2 linked regions of the Homo sapiens genome follow. The protein of the gene in region 1 interacts with the protein of each later gene in a biochemical or structural test. Each region holds a gene or a part of one and is shown in the gene's direction. Other genes may lie near its edges.

Evidence for each region. Proteins that work in one complex are often made in the same cells at the same time.
Region 2: the proteins of UBE2D1 (region 1) and TRIM31 form a complex in vitro, tested with the Homo sapiens proteins (4 studies listed by BioGRID).

Annotation. Positions count from the first base shown.
Region 1 is NC_000010.11:58,338,006-58,341,505, forward strand, and holds part of UBE2D1 (ubiquitin-conjugating enzyme E2 D1), read left to right. Parts: intron 1-3,500.
Region 2 is NC_000006.12:30,110,291-30,114,507, reverse strand, and holds the start of TRIM31 (E3 ubiquitin-protein ligase TRIM31), read left to right. Parts: upstream 1-1,417; 5' UTR 1,418-1,444; intron 1,445-1,619; 5' UTR 1,620-1,702; coding exon 1,703-2,119; intron 2,120-2,668; exon of another isoform or gene 2,669-2,764; coding exon 2,765-2,860; intron 2,861-3,829; coding exon 3,830-4,060; intron 4,061-4,217.

The DNA of each region.
Region 1 (3,500 bases):
CCCGCTGATTTTTTGTATTTTAGTAGAGATGGGGTTTCACCGTGTTGCCTAGGCTGGTCTCGAACTCCTGAGCTCAGGCAATCCACCTACCTCGGCCTCCCAAGGTGCTAGGATTATAGGTGTGAGCCACCACACCCGGCCAATAATCTCTTAATTGGCTTGGCTATTTGAGAGTGTTAAAAAGTTCATGATTTCACATTTCTTCACTATGAAAAAGAATAAAGATGATTGGATTAAAATTATATGTAAAGACAGAGCATGGAGATATCAATGCTTAAAATATATTTTTATAGTAGAATAAACTAACTATACTAGAATATACTAAATGATTTAATGCTCTGATTTAGTGTGCCAGTTTTGCATTCCAGCTCATAAATTTACACACCCATGCCCTATTTTTAAATAACAGTGAAAGATGTTATCGCAGTCACCTAAATCATTAAAAGAAAAAAAGTTTGAACAAAGTCTAAGGAAAGATACCTAAAACATGTCTGAAAAGAGGAGGACAGTTTTTCACCTAGGTATCTATTTTCTAGAAGTAATTTCTAAGTTGTTTCTTCTATCAATACTATTTTCATTACTTGAAACACTTTTTTTGGGGAGGATTATTTTTTAAATTACAGGTGTTAATATCCCAATACCAAATGTTTTGAAAACTAAAGGGCAAAAAAAAGGAAATCCTAAAACAGTCATTGTCATCATCATAGATTTTATTTGATAAAGAATTTGAGGTAATGAACATCATACTAGCATTATGTGATGTGATGTGATGTGATGTGATAAGTTTATTTACATTTTTGTCTTTTGAAAAGTGAGGCAATAGAGTTCCGTTTTACAAACATAGCAACTCAGAGAACTATTCCTTAGTGTGTAATTCTGGCCCCCAAATGGAACATTAGTTGTTTTTGTTTTTTAATAATCAATGTAATCTGAAACATATATAGAGAGACATAGATTAAAATCAAATTTGATAAATGTTTGAGCTGCTGAATTTTTTTGATTTGTAGAATTTTATGTTAAACTGTTTATGTCAGTCTAGAAAACTTTAGGATACTTAACCCAGCCCTCTATGGACGGAGCATCAAATGGAAGAAGGAGGTCTGAGTTTTTTTTGTTTTTAGACAGGGTCTCACTTTGTCACCCAGGCTGGAATGCGGTGGCACAATCTCGGTTTTCTGTGACCTCTGCCTCTGAGGCTCAAGTGACCCTCCCACCTCAGCCTCCTGAGTAGCTGGGACTACAGGCCTGCATCACCACACCTGGCTAATTTTTGTATTTTCAGTAGAGATGGGTTTTCACCATGTTGGCCAGGCTAGTCTCGAACTCCTGACCTCAGGTGATCCACCCGCCTCAGCCTCCCAAAGTGCTGGGATTACAGGCGTGAACCACCTCACGCAGCCAAAGGTCTGGTTTTTATTCCTGGCTGTGTGGCTTACTAGCTTCGTACAATGAGGCTAGTACATATTTTCCATACATTTCCATACAATGGATATGTATGGATATCCATACATATGAGGCTGCTGATCTCAAAAACCAGGGTGTTTGTAATCGTTACTCTGCCTTCTAAGTACTTGACATATATTAATTGACTTAATTCTTAGTATACCCAAGAGGTAGAAACAGTGTTATTTCCATTTTACAGATGATGATACTAAGGCAGGGAAATATTGAGTAGTTTACTCATGATCACATTATCTAGTAAGTGACAATGCTACGATTCCAAAACAAACAGTTGGCTTCAATTCCACATTCCTTTTTTTTTTTTTCAGTCTTAGAATCTTTTATTTAATACCTTCTCATGCCCAGTTAACACAAAAATAGTTGCAGTTACATATCGCTACTGAAAGCTACCAAACTGCCTATCTGAAGAGAGAGTCAAGGATCCTTCTCTTCCACTTCTTAGGAGAGAATGATAGTTTTTGGATGTTGAAGAGAGCATTCACTGAGATTACTGAACTCACCAGATATACTATAAAGCTTTCTGTCTAATGTAGCCAGTAGCCACATGGAAACAAATTGGGTATGAAAATTTAGTTTTCAACCTTGAGCTTTATGAAATCTAAATATAGATCAAATATTGCTGACGAAAATTTAGTATCCAAATTGAGATGTGCTGAAGTGTAAAATATGTACTGGAATTTGAAGACCTAGTATACAAATCTAAATAATTGTTACTAATGAGATATTTATAAACATTTTTATATTGATTAAATTTTGAAATGATGACATTTTGGATAAGCCACCTAGTCAGGCTAAGACTCATTTTCTTTCTCTGTAAAATGAAGGAGTAAACGATATCAGAGTACTACTTGCCTTATTCTGTCTTTACATTCAGGTTCTAGAAACCAGACCATGGGCAGAGCATTTTCCTCCTTGTTCAGCAGAGCAAATTTGTGGGCTTTTAAAGATGGTAACATTGTTTCTTAAATCACTTTCCATAATTTAATATCAGTAATCTGTTTATAGAAGAGAACAGCCACATTCCCTGACAAAGTTTTGTATGACTTTACTTTTTATTTTGCTTTTAAGCTTGGCTGTAATATTATTACTGAACCTGTGACACTTCACTTAAAATGTCAAATCCTTTAGTGGAGAGAGTGTTATTTCCTTGTCTTAATCTTTTTATATGCCAATGATTGTGCCCCCTAGGATAGCAAATAAAATCTGTCAATAAACTGACTGAACAATGCTATCCAATAGAAATACAATGTGAGCTACATTTTAATTTTAAATTTCCTAGTAGCCACGTTTTTAAAACGGGAAGTAGAAGCAAGCAAAATTAAATTTAATGTGTCTTATGTAATTCCATATTCTTAACCACTTCAGTACATAGCTTCTCTTATCCACATGAACTCGTATCTATTGTACTTAAACTGGAAGACATAGAGTCAAATGGGTTTATGGGATATAAGTGCTTTGCAAACTGGAATGTTCTATACAAATGTAAAGTGGTGTTATAATTAAGACCTTGGCATATTTGATCATTTTCACTGACACATTGCTCAAATGTGTTGATTGTGCTTCGCAAATCTCTGCTCCAAAGTAACACATGCTGAGATCGTTTAACATTGTAAATCAGTAATATAACTTTGATCATCTTTGTTTCATCACTTTGAATTTCTCTCCTCCAAAAGGATTTTGAAACATTGGTTGTAGTTCATAAATGCTCTGTCAAAAGTATCATTGCATTGTGAAGTTTTTATTTGAGATAACTTTTTGAATTGACAGAGTCATTTAGTTCCTGTAGTGGTTTTGAGTAGTAAACTGTTCATATTATGAGATTAAATCCAAGACTCCAGTTCTTTCTAGAAAGAATGATACAACTTAAAGAAGCACGGTATTTATGCATTTTGGGATAAATGGTTTTCCTTGAGATGAGAGCGAGATAGTGTTCTTTCTCTAATAAGCCACGATGTAAATTTTTTTTTAAATCTTTGTAATTAAGCTCAGTCTTTCTTTTGTCCTTGATACTGTATTTTTCTTTCTTCATCGCAATAGAG
Region 2 (4,217 bases), on another chromosome or scaffold:
GATTCTGAAGAATACTGAGTTCCTTTTTTGAGAAAGGATAAAGATAATTTCTTACAGGTGAGACTTAAATGAGGTAATATAAGCAAAATAAATCTATAAATCAGAGTCATAATGTCAAATGCCTTCAAGGGCCAAGGAGACGTGAGGTAGCAGAGCGGTGGGGAACATAGCCACCCTCTCTAAAGGCATCTACATTATCATTATTTTCTAAATCATCATGCCAGTCAAACAAAACCTGTCAAAAGTTAAATTCTGCTTCTAGGGGCCAGCAGTTTAGGAGTGTAAGTAAAACAATTTACAGATGTTAGACTGTTTTAATTTAACCCTAAAACAAACAAAAAGAAAGGTCTGGAGGTATAACATTTCTGAAAGTCTTTGGTTTACAGCAGTTGCTATAAGGGGAGCCACATAATTTATAGTCCAAACTGGACATTTCTGAAAGTGAAAGGAGGTGCTATTAATAATTACACCAGGACAAAGTGAAACCCAGGATGGTTCCAGGCAAAGCAGAGTGTATGATCACTCTGGCTATTATTATAATAATCATCCACAAGCCCTGTTTGACCTAAGATTAAGATCAGACAAAAATTAATGGTGTACTTCTTGCTGGGGACAGACGGCTGATAATGGAGAGTGAGGAGGTGAGGGTGGAAGCTATACCAAGAGAAGGGGTAGGGAGGAAGCACCCTTTTCCTTAAGACAAGAGGCAAGGAGGGAAGGTTAGGACATGAATGTACAGAAGGGAATGTATGTAACACTGGTTGATATATTCCTAGTCATAACAAAAGCCATAGAAGGCAAGTCAGGGATCAGAGAAGCACCAAGAAGGAAGAAGAAGAACATATAGACAGAATTGGCAAAGCAAAGAATGGGCACGGAGACACCAGCATACTGGAGACATACAGAGAAAAAATCAACAGAGGACAGACTACTACAGGTGTTGTGGGGAGACAGAAGATCACCAGGGGCAAGAGCAAAGTGCAAAAACAAAGAACAACTCTTTAGAAAGGAAGTTCCTTGCCTATCCTACTGAGCTAGGGAGTGGTTGGTTGACCCTGTGACTGGAAATTCCCCAAGGTAGGTGATGATAACCTCCACATTTTCACAAAATTCTGTGAGGAGCCAAAGCACCTGAGGTAGAGAATTGCCCTTCCCCTACTTTCCAGATGCTCTACCAAGGCTTGAACTTTGCATACAAGATGCCCAAAGCATTGCAGTGAACTGGCTGTGACCTTTCAGTAGGCATCACCACCCACCCCTCCACTCCCTACTCAGAGCTGATTGGGAAATCCCCCATAAGTGGTGTTTGGTGCCCCGGTCATTCTGATCTTAGTCAACCACCATACAAACATACCTTTAGTCCAAAGTTCAGGACAACTTATTTCACTTTATAAGCAGCCTATTACACATTCAAAGTATCCATTTGTTCTCAAGAGGTAGCAAGGTAGGACTGCCCATCTGTTTTCCTCTCTTTATAATATTTTCTAGATCCTAAATTTTACGCTTTTCTATCATTTCTTTATTTTTTTCTCCCTCTTCTTTTCCTCTCTCTCTGCTCTTCTAACTAATTGGCAGAATCTCTGACCTCCACTTTCTCTGACTCCCTTCTCCCTTCCTAGAAACAGTATCCACAGTGGACTCCGGGGCTCCTACAGACTTGGCACAGCTTCCTACAGTCTTGAAACAGCCCTGTTGTTCTGTCATGGCCAGTGGGCAGTTTGTGAACAAACTGCAAGAGGAAGTGATCTGCCCCATCTGCCTGGACATTCTGCAGAAACCTGTCACCATCGACTGTGGGCACAATTTCTGCCTCAAATGCATCACTCAGATTGGGGAAACATCATGTGGATTTTTCAAATGTCCCCTCTGCAAAACTTCCGTAAGGAAGAACGCAATCAGGTTCAACTCGCTGTTGCGGAATCTGGTGGAGAAAATCCAAGCTCTACAAGCCTCTGAGGTGCAGTCCAAAAGGAAAGAGGCTACATGCCCGAGGCACCAGGAGATGTTCCACTATTTCTGCGAGGATGATGGGAAGTTCCTCTGTTTTGTGTGTCGTGAATCCAAGGACCACAAATCCCATAATGTCAGCTTGATCGAAGAAGCTGCCCAGAATTATCAGGTAGGCATTTGAGGTTTCTTCCCTGTTCCCCCATCAGCCCAGGAGTTCAGTGAGGCCCTGGAAACTGCTACCTTCCCACTGAGGGTTTGCACCCCATTGCCCCCACCCCTTGGGCTTGAGTGGGCAGCTCGCAGTCAGGCACAGTGGGTTCAAAGAGCTGAGTCTGGGGAACTGCTGACTCTCTAAATCAAGGTGCAATGGAGAATGGAAAGGATGTGAAAATTTGACTCAGAAGGTTTGGGCTCAAGCCCAGTCTTGTGAGTTTACTGTACAACCTGCAAGGAATCACTTTACCTCTCTGAGCCTCAGGTACCTCACCTTTCAAATGGCAAAAACAAAACAACTCTCTTAAAGTTGTTGGTAGGACAGATGAAGGGAAGTTTGTAGTTCTTTGATAATTCCAAAGCACCATCCATAGTCCTAGTTAGTCATAAATAACTATGTTCTGGTCATTTAGGTCACTTAGGCTCCAGATTTCTCCCTTCTCAGCAACCCCTTTCCCCGCCAGCTTGAGAAAGGCGAGTCCTTAATAATTACACAAGGACTCACCTGGAGAGTGTCACCAGCTCTCCTAAGAGACCAGGAGGATTTTATGAGGCCAGAAATCTCCAGGCACAGCCTGTCCAAACGGCCCTCTTTCCGCAGGGGCAGATTCAAGAGCAGATCCAAGTCTTGCAGCAAAAGGAGAAGGAGACAGTACAAGTGAAGGCACAAGGTGTACACAGGGTCGATGTCTTCACGGTAAGAAAAACTCCATCCCACGATCTCTGGAAGCAGAAACATCTCTGCCAAAGCTCCTGGAATCCCCTATTACACTGACCCCTCAGAAAAAGATCCAGTGAGCCATGTCCTCTCCTCGGCGCCTCAGCACCTGACCGGCCAGGCGGCATCACCTCCCGCGTCGGCCTCGCTATTACAGCGGGCTGACTGCTCAGTCTCCACCGGCAGACAAGGTGGGGCACGGAAAACCCGCGCTGGTCTTAGAATCGCAAGTACAGGTTTTTAAGGCCGAGCTGCGCCCTCAACGGATTCCCCAATTAGAAAATGAAGACATTGGCCGGGCGCGGTGGCTCACGCCAGTAATCACAGCACTCTGGGAGGCTGAGGATCGCTTGAGCCCAGGAGTTTGAGACCAGCCTGGGCAACATAGCGAGACTCTCCTCTTAATTAAAAAAAAAAAGAAAGAAAACTAGCCGGGCGTGGTAGCACACGCCTGTAGTCCCAGCTACTAGAGAGGCTGGGAGGTGAAAGTATTGTTTGAGCCTGGGAGGATGAGGCTGCAGTGAGCCGTGATCGTGCACTGCACTCCAGCCTGAGTGACAGAGTGAGAGACTGTCTCAAAAAAAAAAAAAAAAAAAGACAGAAGGAAAATGAAGACATTGTGACCCCACTTACCTATTTTCCTGTGTGCGTGAAAGGAATAAAATCTATATGAAAGATTATAAACTGAAAAGCCTTCTGGAATTGTATTAGACAGTTCCTTGAAGGCAAGTGGTAAACCATAAATTAATAATTTCGCTTAAAGCTGAGCACGTAGTAGGTGCTTTTAGAAGTTTGTTCTCCTCTCCTTTCCTTTCTTCCAGGTCTGCCCTGGCACATTGCTCTGGTTGGGAATTCCACACAAACTTAATAAAATTAATGGCTGAATAAAGTGGGCTAGAAGGACCTTCGAGGCCATCCTCTCACCCTCTGCCTGTCCCTGTTTCTTAGGACCAGGTAGAACATGAGAAGCAAAGGATCCTCACAGAATTTGAACTCCTGCATCAAGTCCTAGAGGAGGAGAAGAATTTCCTGCTATCACGGATTTACTGGCTGGGTCATGAGGGAACGGAAGCGGGGAAACACTATGTTGCCTCCACTGAGCCACAGTTGAACGATCTCAAGAAGCTCGTTGATTCCCTGAAGACCAAGCAGAACATGCCACCCAGGCAGCTGCTGGAGGTGAGTCCCTTGGGGGCAGAATTGCAGAGAGGTAGCAGCCCATCCCTAGTCTCAGGTCAGAGCATGGACCACTGGCAGAATACCTGAGATTGCCCCAACCATCCTACCTCTAGCCCAGTGCTGTCCAATAGCAATATGTGAGCCGCATGTATTAGAA